4 separate regions of the Homo sapiens genome follow, and regions 2, 3 and 4 are each linked to region 1. The links come from fine-mapping of genetic effects on gene expression. A gene starts in region 1. Each other region holds a variant in brackets. All regions are shown on one strand. Distances are between the middles of the regions.

Region 1 (4,161 bases):
TTTGTTTTCTTTTTCTTTTCTTTTTTTTTTTGAGATGGAGTCTCCCTCCATTGCCCAGGCTGGAGTGCAGTGGCACGATCTCGGCTCACTGCAACCTCTGCCTCCCGGGTTCAAGCGATTCTCCTGCATCAGCTTCCCAAGTAGCTGGGACTACAGGCGCGTGCCACCATGCCCGGCTAATTTTTTCATATTTTTAGTAGAGACAGGGTTTGACCATGTTAGCCAATATGATCTTGATCTCCTGACCTCGTGATCCACCAGCCTCGGCCTCCCAAAGTGCTGGGATTACAGGTGTGAGCCACCGCGCCCAGCCCGGGAGCCCACAAGATTTCTAACTCACAAGATCAAAAACAAACACAGCTATCTGGGGCAGGTCTTCTCATCACCTTGGATTAGAACACCGGCTTGCTTTTGAGCCACTTCCCACTTAGCCCTGGGGTAAGTTACTTCACTTCTCTAGGCCTCAGTTTTCTTATCTCTAAAATGGAAGGAATAATAATGGGGTGTTGTGATGCTCTGATGAGTCAATGTGTGTGAGTGCCTGGCACATGGCCTATCAGTGTTCACCATTAAAGTTACTATCATTTAGAATGATCTTTTGGGTACTTCCTGGCTTGTAGTGACAGTATACGCAATGGTTAAGAACATGGACTTTTGAGAGAATGAAGCCTGCATTTTACCACTTACAACATGTGTAGATGTTGGCTACATTTTTTTTTTTTTTTCTGAGATGGGGTCTTACTCTGTCGCCCAGGCTGGAGTGCAGTGGCACATTCAAGACTCACTGCAGCCTCGACCTCCTGGGCTCGAGATATCCTCCTGCCTCAGCCTCTGGAGTAGCTGAGATGACAGGTGTGTGCCACCACGCCTGGCATAATTTTTGTATTTTTAGTAGAGATGGGGTTTCTCCATGTTGCCCAGGCTGGCCTTGAACTCCTGATCTCAAGCAATCCACCTGCCTCGGCTTCCCAAAGTGCTGGGATTACAGGCCTGAGCCTCTGTGCCCAGCCAACCTTGGGTGCATTTGTCCTCCTCAGCTTGTATCCCCAAGTGTAAAATGGAGATAGTAGGCCAGGAGCGGTGGCTCACGCCTGTAATCTCAACACTTTGGGAGGCTGAGGCAGGCAGGTTGTTTGAGCCCAGGAGTTCAAGATCAGCCTGGGCAACCTGGAGAAACCCAGTCTCTACTAAAAAAAAAGAAATGGAGGTAGTAATCACTTTCTCGCTGGACAGCTTTGAGGGTGAAATTAAATGACTGGGTATAAAGTGTTTCACACAGCTCTTGACTTCTAATCATCCCTTTTCATATACCAGTTATTTTCCTGTTTTCATTTTCCTGTTTTCGCCCAGAGAGGAAAGGGTCTGGCTGAGACCTTTAACCTCTGCCCTCCACCCCATAGCAAAGTTGTGGGGGGGTGGCGGTACACTTCCCTCAGTCTCTGGGCAGGTGTCTGACTCAGTTCAGGGCACCCCTTCCCCTTGTCCAGCTCCCCAAACCGGTCAGGGCCCTTCTGAAGGGCTCATTAGAGGGGAGACGTCCCCATCTCCATTCCTGCCTTCCTTTCTGAACTCCCAAGGTCTGGACATTAGAGAGGCTCCCATACAGAGGTGGCCAAGACTCCTCCAGGGGGGCAGGAATGAGGGGCTCGAGGGAGACTGGGAGGTCGCGATGCTGAGTTCCACGAGGGTGGGGCCGGGCCGGGGCCGGTGGGGCCGGGATGGCCGGATGCCGAGGCCACGGGTGGGGCAAGCCCGTGGCTCCCTCCTCCCTCGGGAGCTGTTGGACCTGTTGTCCCCCCTCCACTTCCGGGCTGCTGGGGAGGGGGACCGGGCGGCCTCTCTCCTCCCTCTTCCCCTGCCACCTGTCTCATAGGCAGAAGCGGCCGTGCCCAGCGCGCAGAGCGGAGCGCGCCGAAGCCTGAGCTCGTGAGGGGGCCGAGGCTGTGGGGAGGTGGCAGTTGGACTTCGGAATCTCAAGGACTCCGACTCCTGGCTTGTTCAGAGAAGGAGAGCCCCGACTCCTGGATCCCTGGGTGAGGCGGCGTGGGCACGGTTGCCCTGCACAGTGGGGTCGGGACTAAGACTACGGGGCTCCGGGAAGGATGGGGCGGGAGCCGAACTGCTGAGTCTCGGAGGGAGAAGATGGGTCGCTCTAAGCGAATCCAAGAGATTGTAGGGGGCTGCTGGGAGGGTACAAGGCCTGACACCTAGAGATGAGGGAGGGGAGGCGGGGTCGAAGAGGTCAGTAGGGGGCGTGCTACGACCCGGACTCAAATTCCGGTCCCGTCTCCGGTGGCGTGTCGCCTTGGAGCCATCAAGCCCCGCCTCTGGAAACTTCAGGACACGCCTCCGTAACGCTCAGTTCCATCCTTTGAACTCTTAGGCCCCGCCTCCTTGGGGGGGGGTCTCCGCGCCCCGGAGCAGACGCGAGCGGCGCTCAGCCGTCCTAGGCCCCGCCCCCGGAGCTTCTGGTCCCGCCCACCCCGCAGGAGTCCCAGCGGCCATGGGGACGCGAAGCAGCCCCGAGGAGGGGACCCCGCCGCCGCTGGTCCCGGAATGCGACGTGGAGGTCCAGCCCCAGGGCCATCCCGAGGAGTCCCGGGAACAGGAGGCATCCGAAGTCCTGGCGGAACCTTCGAGCCGCGGGGGAGCTGAGCAGCAGGCAGAGGAAGAAGAAGTGGGAGAAGGCAGCAGCACTGAGAGCAGCCGCGACGCGGTGAGGGGCCCGAGGGCGACAGCGCGGGGGGCTTGGACCGACGGGGACCCAAACAGGTGGCCAGACAGGTAGACAGGTAGAGGGAAACCAGAAAGACAGAGACCCGGAGACAGGGAGAGAGACCGAGTGATAGCAGAGACTACTGAGAGAGAGATACACCAGGACACGGAGCCAGAGAGGCAGAGGCACAGACAGACAGAAACCAGATACAGAGACAGAAACCAGATAGAGCCACGGGGAGGCCCCAAGAACGGAGATAGACCCAAACGGGCGACAGAGACAGAGAGACTAGTATAGAGGAACCAGATAGGTGGCTCACGCCTGTAATCCCAGCACTTGGGGAGGCCGAGGGGAGGATTGCTTAAGCCCAGGAGTTCGAGACAAGTCTGGGCAACATAGCAAATCCCTGTCTCTAGAGAAAAAAAAAATACAAAAATTGTCCAAGCGCAGTGCCGCGTGCCTGTAATCCCAGCTACTCGGGAGGCTGAGGCAGGAGGATCGCTTGAGCCCAGGAGTTGTAGGCTGCGGTGAACTATGACTGCGCCACTGCACCCCAGCCTGGGACAAAGCAGAACCTATCTCTAAAAATGAGAGAGAGAGAGAGAGAGAGAGAGAGAGAGAGAGACCAGATAGACAGACAGGAGAGACTACAGAACAGAGAGAACCAAACGAGTAAGAGATGCAGAGAGATCAAGAAGCCAGACAGAGACCCAGAGACATGGAGACTGAGAGACAAAGACCCCAAAAAGACAGAGACACAGTGAGACTAGAGTCAGAGAGAGGGGAATCGAGACAGAGGGAAACCCAGAAATAAATGGCAGAGATGCTCAGAGAAACAAATAGACAAAAACCTCGAGAGAGGGACATACTCCGAGGAAGAAAGATCTAGTGATTCTAGTGGACAGATCTAGTGGACAGATACCGAATCTGAGAGACTGGGGTCAGGTGGAGAGACAGAGACAGATCCAGGCACTACAAGAAAGTGACGCCAAGAGAATAGGACCTGATAGAGAAAAAGAAACACCTTTCATAAGTCGGCTTTACACCTGCTCACCCTCCATACGGTACTGCAAGCCTCTGTGGTCCGTGTGGTTGGGTGGTCACGGGACTTGCACCCTCCCCCACTCCGACCTTAAATACAGGGGTCTGAGGCCGGGCGCGGTGGCTTATGCCTGTAATCGTAGCACTTTGGGAGGCCGAGGTGGGAGAATCCCTTGAGCCTAGGAGTTTGAGACCAGCCTGGGCAACATAGCATCGCCCCCTCTCTGCCAAAAAAAAAAAAAAAAAAAAAGAGCTTGGCGTGGCGGTGCGCGCCTGTAGTCACAGCTACCTAGGAGGATGAGGCAGAAGAATCGCTTGAGCGAGGGAGGTCGATGCTGCAGTGAGCCGTAATCGCGCCACTGCACTCCAGCCAGTGAGACCCTATCTCAGGACAAAAAAAAAAA
Region 2 (4,161 bases), 34 kb after region 1:
ACACCATGAGGGGTCAAGAGAAAGGCTGAGGGCCAGGTGCAGTGCCTCATGCCCGTAATCCTAGCATTTTGGGAGGCTGAGACAGGAAGATCACTTGAGCCCAGGAGTTTGAGACCAGCCTGGGCAACATAACAAGACCCTTTTTCTACAAAAAAAAATTTAAAAATTAGCTGGACATGGTGGCACACACCTGTAGTGGCAGCTACTTGGGAGGCTGAGGTGGGAGGATTGCTTGAGTCCGGGAGATAGAGAGGCTGCAGTGAGCTGTGAGCTGCATGCCAGCCTGGGTGGCAGAGTGAGACTGTCTCAAAAAAAAAAAAAAAAAAAAGATTGAGGCAGAAGAAAGGAAAAAAAAGTGTTTCTATTTTAGTACCTTTAACAGCACTCTTTCCTGTTTTTTTTTTTTTTTTTTTTTTTTTTTGGTGAGAATGGAGTTTTGCTCTTGTTGCCCAGGCTGGAGTGCAATGGTGCGATCTCAGCTCACTGCACCCTCCGCCTCCTGGGTTCAAGCGATTCTCCTGTCTCAGCCTCTGGAGTAGCTAGGATTACAGGCACACGCCACCACACCTGGCTAATTTTTTGTATTTTTAGTAGAAATGGGGTTTCACCATGTTGGTCAGTCTGGTCTCGAACTCCTAATTTCTGGTGATCCTCCCACCTCGGCCTCCCAAAGTGCTGGGATTACAGGCGTGAGCCACCGTGCCCGGCCTCTTTTCCTGCGTTTTGAACCAGGTCTCTAAATTTCATTTTGCACTGGGGCCCGAAAATTATACAGTCAGCCCCATCCCTGACTCCACTCCTTCCCTAACTTGTCACAAACAGTGTGTCCCAGAGGGAGTGGGCCTGAGTCAGGCTGGGAACCTCACTGGCGTCAGAGCCTGGTCTGCCACAGGGAGACGAGAAATCCAGAGTGAATATGGTCCTGGGCTTGTCTGAGGCCTGGGAGTGATCTGTATTGCTGGCAGCTGCCTCCGCACTGACCCCTGAGCCAGATTCTAGATTCTCTGCCATAAAATCTGCAAAGGACCCAGAAGAGCCAGCCACCTACCACGCAGCAGGCTTAAGTGGTGCCCTGCATTCAAACCTCCTTCTGTTCTCTGGTCATGGGCCAGGCGGGGGTCAGCGCCTAGAATCTGGGCAGGCCTGAGCAAGAGGTACCTCTCCACCCTGGGTCCCACTCCCTCCCGAGATGCTAGTTCTTCTGGTCTGGCCAGTTGGGGTTCCTCCCTGAAACTCTCCCACACAGCTGGGACCTGCAGGGCCTCCTGCTTCAGAGCAGCACACAATAATAATGCTAGTCTCACCCTGCCTGTCACTCACTGGGTCCCCGCTCTATCCTTCAGGAGGTAGGGGTTTTCAGGGGAAGTTCAGAGAGGGAGATGGAGTTGCTTGAGGTTACACAGCAAGAGGGTGGCAGAGATAGGATTAAAATGTGTCTGTCCACTTCCAGACTTGATATTTTGCCCACTGCCTTACCCTACCAATGAAAGATAGTCCTTCTTTTATTATAAAAAAGACACTTTGGGCCCGGCATGGTGGCTCACGCCTGTAATCCCAGCACTTTGAGAGGCCGAGGCAGGCAGATCACCTGAGGTTGGGAGTTTGAGACCAGCCTGACCAACATGGCGAAACTCCATCTCTACTAAAAATACAAAAAATTTGCTGAGTGTGGTGGTGGATGCCTGTAATCCCAGCTACTCGGGAGGCTGAGGTAGAAGAATCGCTTGAACCTGGGAGACAGAGGTTGCAGTGAGCTGAGATTGCGCCATTTGCACTCCAGCCTGGGAAAC[G/AAG]AGTGAAACTCCGTCTCAAAAAAAAAAAAAAAAAAAAAGACACCTTGGAGGCTCAGAGAGATGAAAGCATTTATGCAGCATCACACAGCAAAGCAAGAATCAGGGCTGAGATTCCAAGGCTGGGAGGCGGGCGGAGGGAGGGGGAAGGGGACAGTGCTGAATGAATGACTTCACAAGAAGTCATTCACTTTCTCTCTCTCAGCTTCAGCATGATGCCAAGTGACCTCACCCAGGTGACTGAAGTGCTCGTCATTGTTGGGAACGGGGGTGCCTCACAGGGTCTGGAGAACAGATAATATCTTTATAAACACGACCGCTGCTTGTCTCGTCATCAGACAGTGAGCCAGCCCCCTGCAGCCGGGTCTGACATCTGACTCTGCCGCTTCCCTTGCTGTGTGAACTTGAACAGATACCTTCCTCTCTCTGGGTCTCAGAGTCTTCCTCTGTGAAGGAGATCTTCCTCTCTACCCCCTCGTTAGGAATTCAAGGCAAGATTGCTTGTATAAGAGCTGACCACCCTGTGTGGCACACGGTTGGAGCTCAAGAAGTGAGGGCTGTTAATAATAATAGTTATACTAACAATCTATTTATTATTATTATTATTGAGACAGGGTCTCACTCTGTGACTCAGGCTGGAGTACAGTGACGTGATCACAACTTACTGCAGCCTTGACCTCCCAGGCTCAATGCGATCCTTCCACCTCGGCCTCCCGAGTAGTTGGATCTACAGGTGTGCACCACCACACCTGGCTACTTTTTGTATTTTTTGTAGAGATAGGGTTTCACTATGTTGCCCAGGCTGGTCTCAAACTCCTGGGCTCAAGTGATCTGCCCGCCTCAGCCCCCACAAAATGCTGGGATTACAGGCACCAGCCACTGTGCTTGGCCCTTAACCTATTATTAGTAATAAAAACTAATGCTTTCATAACTCCTAGAATTTGACCCTATTTTAATCATTTCACATATATTTAACATTGATGCCCTAGCAGTATAGTATTTCACATATATATAACATTGATGCCCTAGCAGTATAGCACCTAGTATGATGTGGGTACTACTAAGACCCTCATTTTATGGATGAGGATGAGGGCACTGAGGCACACAGGGGCCAAGTAATTGTCAAAGTTTCACAGCTGATATCCAATGGACCCATGTACCTAATTATAGGTACTGTTAGTTAAGCCAGACTGCCTGAGTTCAAATACTGTCTCCTAGCATTGTGACTTCCTAGCTTTGTGACCCTGAGCAAGTTGTTAAGCCCCCCATGCCTGCCTCGATTTCCCCATTTGTAAATTGACCATCATAGAAATCTCTCATAGGATTGTGTGTAAAGGGTGTGGAAAGTTGCCTGGCACAGAGGAAGCACTGAATGCATGTGCTTTTGTCATAGTCTTTGTTTAGACAGGAAGCCTCTGAACATCAAAGAATTGGAGTCACTTGATCAAGTCACACAGCAGATTAGGGGCAGAGTTGGTATTCAAATGCATGCCTGTCTGGCTGTAAAACTAAGGGTCATTGCAAAATATAATCTCAGGCCTAAAGCCAGGCTCTGACTTTGGCAAATGGCATGGGGGCCTTTGGAGACAGCCCTGGATTCAAATCCCAGTTCTGCCACTTCCAAGCCTCTCCCAGTCTCAGTTTTCCCATCTGTGAAATGAGACTTAGTTCTCTCTTTGCAGAGCTGTCGTGACATTCAGAGAGGATTCACAGAAAGTGCTAAGCACAGAGTAAGTGGTTAATAAATGCTAATAACCATACTTACAGGTGAGGATTAAATGAGATAATGCATGCCCCCTGTTCAAAACAGTTTCTGGGAAACAAACACTTGATACTCAGTCACTGTTGTTATTATGACTTTTGTTACCATTGTTATTAATGTCATGATGTGGTTTATGGCAAGAACTGTCTGGAATTAGCTTGGAAACCTCCCACTTCCTCTTCCCTCACATTGGATCCATCAGTAATCCCTACCTGTTCTTCCTCCTAAAATATTTTAGATCTTTCCACTCTTCACCTTTCCTTTGGGACACCCTTGGCTAAGTACATCTGCTCTGGCCTGTGTCAATGTTCTCCACCAGGGACACACCTGTGGTTGAACAAGTTGGGTTTATTGCTTCTTGCAATGAGGGAGAAAACACACCATGAGGTAACTGTGAGGTGTCTAAGTAAAAGGGTGTTAGAAAGGATTGATTTTTTTTTTTTTTGAGTCAAAGTCTTGCTCTGTCACCCAGGTTGGAGGGCAGTGGCGCAAATCTCGGCTCACTGCAACCTCTGCCTCCTAGGTTCAGCGATTCTCCTGCCTCAGCCCCTACTCCCCAGGAACTGGGATTACAGGTGTGTGCCACCACACCCAGCTAATTTTTTGTATTTT
Region 3 (4,161 bases), 47 kb after region 1:
CATCAGTGATGGTAAATGTAGTGTTGGGAGTATTAATGATTTTTCTTTTTTTTTTTTTTTGAAATGGAGTTTTGCTCTTGTTACCCAGGCTGGAGTGCAATGGCACAATCTCAGCTCGCCACAACCTCCCCTCCCAGGTTCAAGCGATTCTCCTGCCTCAGCCTCCCGAGTAGCTGGGATTACAGGCATGTGCCACCATGCTTGGCTAATTTTATATTTTTAGTAGAGATGGGGTTTCTCCATGTTGGTCAGGCTGGTCTCAAACTCCTGACCTCAGGTGATCCACCCACCTTGGCCTCCCAAAGTGCTGGGATTACAGGCGTGAGTCACCATGCCCGGCAGAGATTTTTAAATTTTAATTTAACTTTTATTTGTATTGTAGAGATTGGCGTCTCACTATGTTACCCAGGCTGGTCTCGAACTCCTGGGCTCAGATGATCCTCCTGCCTCTGTCTCTCAAGTGCTGGGATTACAGATGTGAGGCACCGTGCCCAGCTGTGTTAGTGATTAAAGACAGTCTTACTAGATGCCAAGTCTATGCTATCAGTTTACAGCCATCATCTCATTGACTTTTCCACATATTTTCAGATGGGATGATTGGGGAAACTGAGGCTCAGAATGATGAAGTAATTACCCACAGCAAATAATACATTGATTATGTGCCAGGTACTGTATTAAGTGCTGTACTTGGATTAATATATTTAATCTACAAAACCATCCTATGAAGTAAGTGTTAATCACCTGCATTTTACAAGATGGGGAAATCAGGGCTAGAGAGGTTAAGAAACTTGCCCCACGTCACTCAGCTATTAAGCAGTGGAGCTCGGATTTGAACACGGGCAGGTCAGCTTTACAGAGTGTACCAACACTGCCATAATGTTTCCCTCAGCTTGACTAAACTTTAGACAGGCTTCCTCCTGCCTCTAGGCCCTCAGAATCCAGAGGGTCTAACCACAGAGGCCCCTTACCTCCCTTTTCTTAGAGCATTTACTTGAGAAAACTTGTCATTGTAAATTATTTCTTTGTCCATTTGAGATGGATATAAACCTCTTTAAAAGTCTTGGCCGGGCGCGGTGGCTCACGCCCGTAATCCCAGTACTTTGGGAGGCCAAGGCGGGTGGATCACGAGGTCAGGAGTTCAAGACCAGCCTGACCAACATGTTGAAACCCCGTCTCTACTAAAAATACAGAAATTAGCCAGGTGTGGTGGCAAGTGCCTGTAATCCCAGCTACTCAGGAGGCTGAGGCATGAGAATCGCTTCAACCTGGGAGGCGGAGGTTGCAGCGAGCCAAGATCACGCCATTGCACTTCAGCCTGGGGGCGACAAAATGACACTCTGTCACAAAAAAAAAAAGAAAAAAAAAGTATCTTGCCAGTTGATAGCCCAGGAAATGGAGTCTCACTATGTTGCCCAGGCTGATCTTGAACTGGGGTCAAGCTATCTTCCTGCCTTGGCTTCTCAAAATGCTGGGATTACAGGGATGAGTGACCAGGACCCAGGAAACTATCTTTTTGAAATTGTAAACATAAAAGGAAATAGCACTCCTATCTCCCCCCAGGAAGGTGAGAGCCTAACTTTGGTACATGACTCAGCTCTCAGTTGTAAAATACCTCCTGTCATGAAGACAGAAGAAAGTTGCCTTCTCTTCTGGGTAAAGCCGATTAAAAATGCAAATGACCTACAATCGCCATTCACCCCAGCTCAAAATCCCTACCACTCAGCTGGGCGTGGTGGCTCATGCTTGTAATCCCAGCATTTTGGGAGGCTGAGGCAGGCGGATCCCTTGAGTCCAGGAATTTAAGACCATCCTGGGCAACCTCGTCTCTAAGAAAAATACATTAAAAATTAGCCAGGTGTGGTGGCACGTGCCTGTAGTCCCAGCTACTTGGGGATGCTGAGGTGGGAGGATCGCTTGAACCCTGGAGGCCGAGGTTGCAGTGAACCATGATGGTGCCACTGCACTCCAGCCTGGGTGACAAAGCAAGACACTGTCTCAAAAAAAAGAAATCTGGCTTCCAATG[CT/T]TTTTTTTGTTGTTGTTTGAGATGGAGTCTCACTCTGTTGCCCAGGCTGGAGTGCAGTGGCGTGATCTTGGCTCACTGCAACTTCTGCCTCCCAGGTTCAAGCAATTCTCCTGCCTCAGCCTCTCGAGTAGCTGGGACTACAGGTGCACACCACCACGCCCGGCTAATTTTTGTATTTTTAGTAGAGATGGGAATTCGCTATGTTGGCCAGGCTGGCAATATATTTACTTAGCGGATCCATCCCCCTGAAAGTAACCAATCTTTTGCAGCTGTCACTGTCCAGCCTTCCCATCTTCTTGGGAGGATGACCTCCTTATCCATCTTGGCCTCTGAAACCCATTATGGGCCCTGAGACTCCCGCTCCCCCACCGCAACCCCTCCAACCTCCTTCCAGACAGTTACTTGCTTGTGTTCAGGAGGAGAAGAGAAAAGAAGAGCTTAATGTGTTTCAAATATAATCAATTGTTTTGCTCATCTAGTTTCTACTTTTAAGCTCCTAGCTCTGCTTTCTGTTAAAAATACCAGATTCTGGCCAGGTGTGGTGGCTCATACCCATAATCGCAACATTTTGTGAGGCCGAGGCGGGTGGATCTCTTGAAGTCAGGAGTTTGAGACCAGTCTGGCCAATATGGCGAAACCCCATCTCTACTAAAAATGCAACAAAATCGGCTGGGCATGGTGGCTCACGCCTGTAATCACAGCACTTTGGGAAGTCGAGGCGGGCGGATCACCTTAGGTGAGGAGTTCGAGACCAGTCTGGCCAATATGGCGAAACCCCATCTCTACTAAAAATGCAACAAAATCGGCTGGGCATGGTGGCTCACGCCTGTAATCCCAGCACTTTGGGAGGTCGAGGCGGGCGGATCACCTTAGGTCAGGAGTTCAAGACCAGTCTGGCCAATATGGTAAAACCCTGTCTCTACTAAAAATACAAAAATTAGCTGGACGTGGTGGCGGACTCCTGTAGTCCCAGCTACTCAGGAGGCTGAGGCAGAAGAATCGTTTGAACCTGGGAGGCGGAGCTTGCAGTGAGCCAAGATTGTGCCATTGCACTCCAACTTGGGTGACAGAGTGAGACTCTGTCTCAAAAAAAAAAAAAAAAAATCAGCCAGGCTTGGTGGTGCGCGCCTACAATCCCAGCTACTTGGGAGGCTGAGGCAGGAGAATCACTTGAACCCGGAAGGCGGAGGCTGCAGTGAGCTGTGATTGTACCACTGCACTCCAGCCTGGGCGACAGAGTGAGACTCTGTCTCTCTCTCTTTCTCTCTCTCTCACACACAGACACACACACACACACACACACACACACACACACACACAGCCAGATTCTGTATAACTTATTAGACTGGACACGGCTTTAAAGTGTTTTTAATGACAGCTCACCAAAACAGAAGTGAGAGAAAGAAGAAAAAGGACGAGGAGAAAGAAAGGGAAGAGAGAGTGAGAGGGTTTAGCCGTACGAAAAGCCACAGAGGGGGAAAGTTACAAAATCTCTTTCCTGTATTTTTTCCAAGGTTTGATGTCTGAGGTCCATGTGTGAGAAATTGATTTCAGCCTCTTTTTCAGGGCTTGCTGGGGACAAGGCAGGTGTGACAAGGGGCAGGGTGGATCTGCCTGAACTGGCCTTGCTGGTTTCTCTTCTTCCTGGGTTTGTGTGTTTTTAACGAAGGGCTTGTTTAATTTTAATTACATAAGCAAGACATGACTATCTTCTTGCTGTCAAACATTAAAAAAATACAGAGACAGCAAGAGAGAGAGAGAGAGAGAGTGCTCAAAAAGCCCTTTTGAGAAATGGTTGGTCAATCAGTTGCAGGGGAGGGAAATTGGGGTGCAATTTGGAAACGTCTTTCTAAATGACAAATGCAGATCGCTTCTGACTTGGCAGGTTTTTCTCTCAGGAATTTATCTCACATGTAGACATGGACGCCTGAGGCTGATGTCAGGTCTGCTCCAGGATGTTAATTGCAGTAGTGTTTGGAATAACAAAACATTAGGAATAACCTAAATGTTTATCAGGAGGGAACTGGTTATGCTTATGATGGTGTGCTCACACAGTTTGATGCTTTATGGGCATTATAAAAATAAAATGAGCTAGGTGCAGTGGTTCACGCTTGTAATCCCAGCACTTTGGGAGGCC
Region 4 (4,161 bases), 27 kb after region 1:
TCTTTTGATAGGCCTCTGATGTTTCAGGGTGAGCTCTAGGGTCAGAAATACCTGGGTTCGTGTCCCAGTTCTGCTGCCTAGAAGCTCTGTGTGACCTCGGGTGCATTATGTCATCTCTCTGTACCTCATTTTGCTCATTTGTAAAATGGGGCTCACAGTTGCCATGAAGTGCCAAGGAGCTGATGTCCATAAAGTCCTGGGCAGAGCATCACAGTCAATCCACGTAGCCGTTGCATTTGTCAGATGGTCCTAGTTAATATTACCCTCTAAAGGCTGTAGCGGGCCTTACATGCAAGCTGCTATGACTTGCTCCCCTCGAGGGGCTCCAGGCTGTAGAATCCCCCGCCCCTTACATCAGCTGCCCCGTCTCTTTGCTCCCCAGGCCCCACCCACCCCACCCCACCCTCCAGGCCCGCGAATCTTGGATCTCCGGCAGCATCTGGAGGGATGGGGCCACAACCCGGAAAACTGCCCACATGTGCAGGTGTCTGGGTGCTGCTGCCGTGGACCCCTGGTGAAGATGGGCGGCCGCATCAAGACCTGGAGGAAGCGATGGTTCTGCTTTGACCGCCAAGCCCGCCGCTTGGCCTACTATGCGGGTAAGCCCAGCCTGGCCACCATGGGCCCCAGGACGCTGGAATTCCACTCCGGAGGCCTTTCCTCTACAGGCACCAGAAGTCCTGGCCCCCACTTTCCATGTTCCCCAGGATCCAGAAGTTTGGTTCCCTAGCTCCTAACTTCCCTACAACCCAGGAGTCCAGGCTCCCAGCTCTCTCTCTCCTCCAGACCCTGGAATCCAGATCCCCAGCCCCTCTTTAAGCCACCCAGAATTCAAACCCCCAGTCCTCCTCAGGGACATAGATAACAGTTTAGTACAATTCAAGCTTCCCAGGGCCCATGTTCCTAAGACACCCATGAGTCTGAACCTGCACTGTCAGCTGCCCCCAGCCCCCCAATGGCCAGGAGTCTGGGGCCCTTGTCCTTCTTCTCTAGGAGAATCAATTATTCCAAACCTCTCCTTGGACACTTTTTTTTGTTTTTGTTTTTGTTTTTGTTTTTTGGAGACAGAGTCTTGCTCTGTCGCCCAGGCTGGAGTGCAGTGGTGCGATCTCAGCCCACTGCAACCTCCACCTCCCCGGCTCAAGCGATTCTCCTGCCTCAGCCTCCTGAATAGGCGGGACTACAGGCTCATGCCACCACACCTGGCTAATTTTTTGTATTTTTAGTAGAGACAGGGTTTCACTGTGTTAGCCAGGATGGTCTCGATCTCCTGACCTTGTGATCTGCCTGCCTCAGCCTCCTAAAGTGCTGGGATTACAGGCTTGAGCCACTGCACCCAGCCTCCTTGGACGCTTGTATTGTCTCAAATCCTTCTTCCCTAACCTGTATGACCATTTGACTCTACTTGGTGAGTCCTGGCTCTGTCAGCTCTGGCTGTGTGACTTGTGCTGGGTGCCTTAACTTCTCTGAGTCTTGGTTTCCACATCTGTCAGATGGAGATAAATGTACTTACCCCTCCAGGAGAGTTTGAGAGGGTTAGAGATTATACCTAGAAAGCACTTGAGCACTCCCTGAGTTCCTTCCCTTCTCAGAGGCCGAGCATTCAGGGCCTAGGATTCCAGCTCCACAGACCCCACTCCCCAATCATGTCCAGTTTCTG[T/C]GCCCAGTCTCCCATCCAGCGTTAACATTCACTCACCTCCCAACCTTTAGAGACCTTCAGACTCTTGTCACCATGTTTCTTACCCAAATCCAGTCTCAGGACTTAGGGCCAATGACCCTCACCTCGACACACACAGACACACCTTTCTCACTGGCTCTCTTTTTCTCTTACCTCCCCTACCAGACAAGGAAGAGACCAAGCTCAAAGGTGTCATCTACTTCCAGGCCATTGAGGAAGTCTATTATGACCACTTACGCTGTGCCTTCAAGGTGAAGCCCCTCAATGTCACCCTGACCTCCCAGTTGGAGACTCAGTTGGAGTCAGGCCTTATCTCATCCCTGGCTCATCCTGGGGAAAGCCACCCGCAGCTTCTCCTGTCAGGGTACTCATAGGAGTACGTGTTTGTCGCAGAGAAAACAAACAGGTCACCTGACTGCAGGGACTAAAAATTAAGAGCCCAGACTCTGGCCTTCAGCCACTGTTAATTTTCTTCTTTTTTTTTTTTTTTAAGACAGAGTCTCATTCTGTCGCCCAGGCCTGAGTACAGTGGCGCCATCTCGGCTCACTGCAACCTCCGCCTCCCTGGTTCAAGCAATTCTCCTGCCTCAGCCTCCTGAGTAGCTGGGATTACAGGCACCGTGCCCGGCTAATTTTTGTATTTTTAGTAGAGACGGGGTTTCACTGTGTTGGCCAGGTTGGTCTCAAACTCCTGACCTCATGATCTGCCCACCTCAGCCTCTCAAAGTTCTGGGATTACAGGCGTGAACCACCGCACCACACGTGGCTCTTTTTTTTTTTTTAGATGGAGTCTGGCTCTGTTGCCCAGGCTGGAGTGCGGTGGCGCCATCTTGGCTCACTGCAACCTCTGCCTCCCGGGTTCAAGCGATTCTCCTGCCTCAGCCTCCCAAGTAGTTGGGATTACAGGCGTGCCACCACAGCTGGCTAACTTTTGTATTTTTAGTTGAGATGGGGTGTCACTGTGTTGGCCAGGCTGGTCTCGAACTCCTGACCTCATGATCTGCCCACCTTGGCCCCCCAAAGTGCTCGGATTACAGGCGTGAGCCACCGCACCTGGCCTGTCACTGTTAATTTTCTTGGAGCAAAAGTTTTAGAGCCAAAATATGGCAGACTCTGATGTCCAACTGGGAATAAATGAATGGAGAGGTCACAGCAAGGGTCGGGCAGCCTGGGAGCATCTAAAGGAGATGATCTGCCAGGCGTCGTGGCTCATGCCTATAATCCCAACATTTTGGGAGACCAAGATGGGAGGACTGCAGGAGGCCAGGAGTTTGAGACCAGCATGGTCAACATAGCAAGATCCCATCTCTGTTTTTTTTTTTTTATTTTTTAAATGAAAAATAAATAAAGGAGATGGTTGTTAGTTGGCTCCTGCCAACAGTTGCCAAGTGGGAGTGGGTCCCATGGTGTTGTCTTATATTTATTTTTTCCCAGAGAACTCAGGAATTGGAACTTGTATAAAGCACAGTGCCAAAAATTTAAATGTTGGCAACTGATACAATATTTAGAAAGCTCTGTGGAGAATAACCAAACTGTGGCTTTTTAGCAATTAGGTTGGAATCTCAGCTATGTGACATCAGGAAAGTGACTTCCTTTCTTTAGCCTTTAGCCTTAGTTTTCTTTGTTTCTTTTTCTTTTTTTTTTTCTTGCTCCATAGACCAGGCTGGAGTGCAGTGGTACAATCATAGCTCACTGCAGCCTCTATCTCTCGGGCTCAAGCAATCCTCCTGCCTCAGCCTCCTGAGTAGCTAGGACTATATGTGTGTGCCACCACACCCAGCTAATTTGTTTTGTTTTGTTTTTCTGGTATTTTTTTGTAGAGATGGGGTCTCCCTCTGTTGCCCAGGCTGGTCTTGAACTCCTGAGTTCAAGCAATCAATCCGCTTCAACCTCCCAAAGTGCTGGGATTGCAGGCGTGAGCCACCCAGCCCGGCCGGCCTGAGTTTTCTCACGTGTAGAATGGGTACGCATCAACCCATTCCATCAGGGTTATTGAGAGGGCTAAAAACAGATTATGGACATAAGGGATTTACTCAATTTGGGATTGGCAAGTGGGTACTCAAATAACGGATTCTAGACACTAACTTTTCCCAGGTACAAGGGGACCTAGATTTTGGGGAGGTGGAATTTGAATGCCTGTATTTCTAATATAGGAGAAGTTAGGCTGAGAGAAGGCGTCATAAGTCCTACTTTTAAATTTCTCGGCCTGGCACAGTGGCTCACGCCTGTAAGCCCAGCACTCTGGGAGGCCGAAGCAGGCGGATCACGAGGTCAAGAGATCGAGACCATCCTGACAAACACTGTGAAACCCTGGTCTGTACTAAAAATACAAAAATTAGCTGGGCGTGGTGGCACACGCCTGTAGTCCCAGCTACTCGGGAGGCTGAGGCAGGAGAATCGCTTGAACTCGAGAGGTGGAGGTTGCAGTGAGCCAAGATTGCGCCACTGCACTCCAGCCTGGCGACAGAGCCAGACTCAGTTTC

What was found. PIP is the estimated chance that this variant, and not a neighbour inherited with it, causes the effect.
Region 2: its variant is the best candidate, but not a certain one, in a credible set for the expression of PHLDB3 in activated naive CD4 T cells (Schmiedel 2018, PIP 0.61).
Region 3: its variant is the best candidate, but not a certain one, in a credible set for the expression of PHLDB3 in anterior cingulate cortex (GTEx, PIP 0.85).
Region 4: its variant is the best candidate, but not a certain one, in a credible set for the expression of PHLDB3 in testis (GTEx, PIP 0.67).

Annotation. Positions count from the first base shown.
Region 1 is chr19:43,502,461-43,506,621 of GRCh38, reverse strand. It overlaps PHLDB3 (pleckstrin homology like domain family B member 3), which reads left to right and starts at 1,876. Exons shown (of 16, transcript NM_198850.4): 1 at 1,876-2,033; 2 at 2,490-2,716. The coding sequence starts at 2,504. RefSeq lists silencers at 1,680-1,739, 2,340-2,589 and an enhancer at 2,218-2,740.
Region 2 is chr19:43,468,325-43,472,485 of GRCh38, reverse strand. No RefSeq gene overlaps it. Among named protein-coding and RNA genes, the nearest start is that of LYPD3, 4.8 kb to the right of the region's middle. The variant G/AAG (reference allele first, on the strand shown) is at 1,791.
Region 3 is chr19:43,455,331-43,459,491 of GRCh38, reverse strand. No RefSeq gene overlaps it. Among named protein-coding and RNA genes, the nearest start is that of LYPD3, 8.2 kb to the left of the region's middle. The variant CT/T (reference allele first, on the strand shown) is at 2,024.
Region 4 is chr19:43,475,815-43,479,975 of GRCh38, reverse strand. PHLDB3 (pleckstrin homology like domain family B member 3) reads left to right here. Exons shown (of 16, transcript NM_198850.4): 14 at 383-599; 15 at 1,844-1,929. Among named protein-coding and RNA genes, the nearest start is that of LYPD3, 12 kb to the right of the region's middle. The variant T/C (reference allele first, on the strand shown) is at 1,661.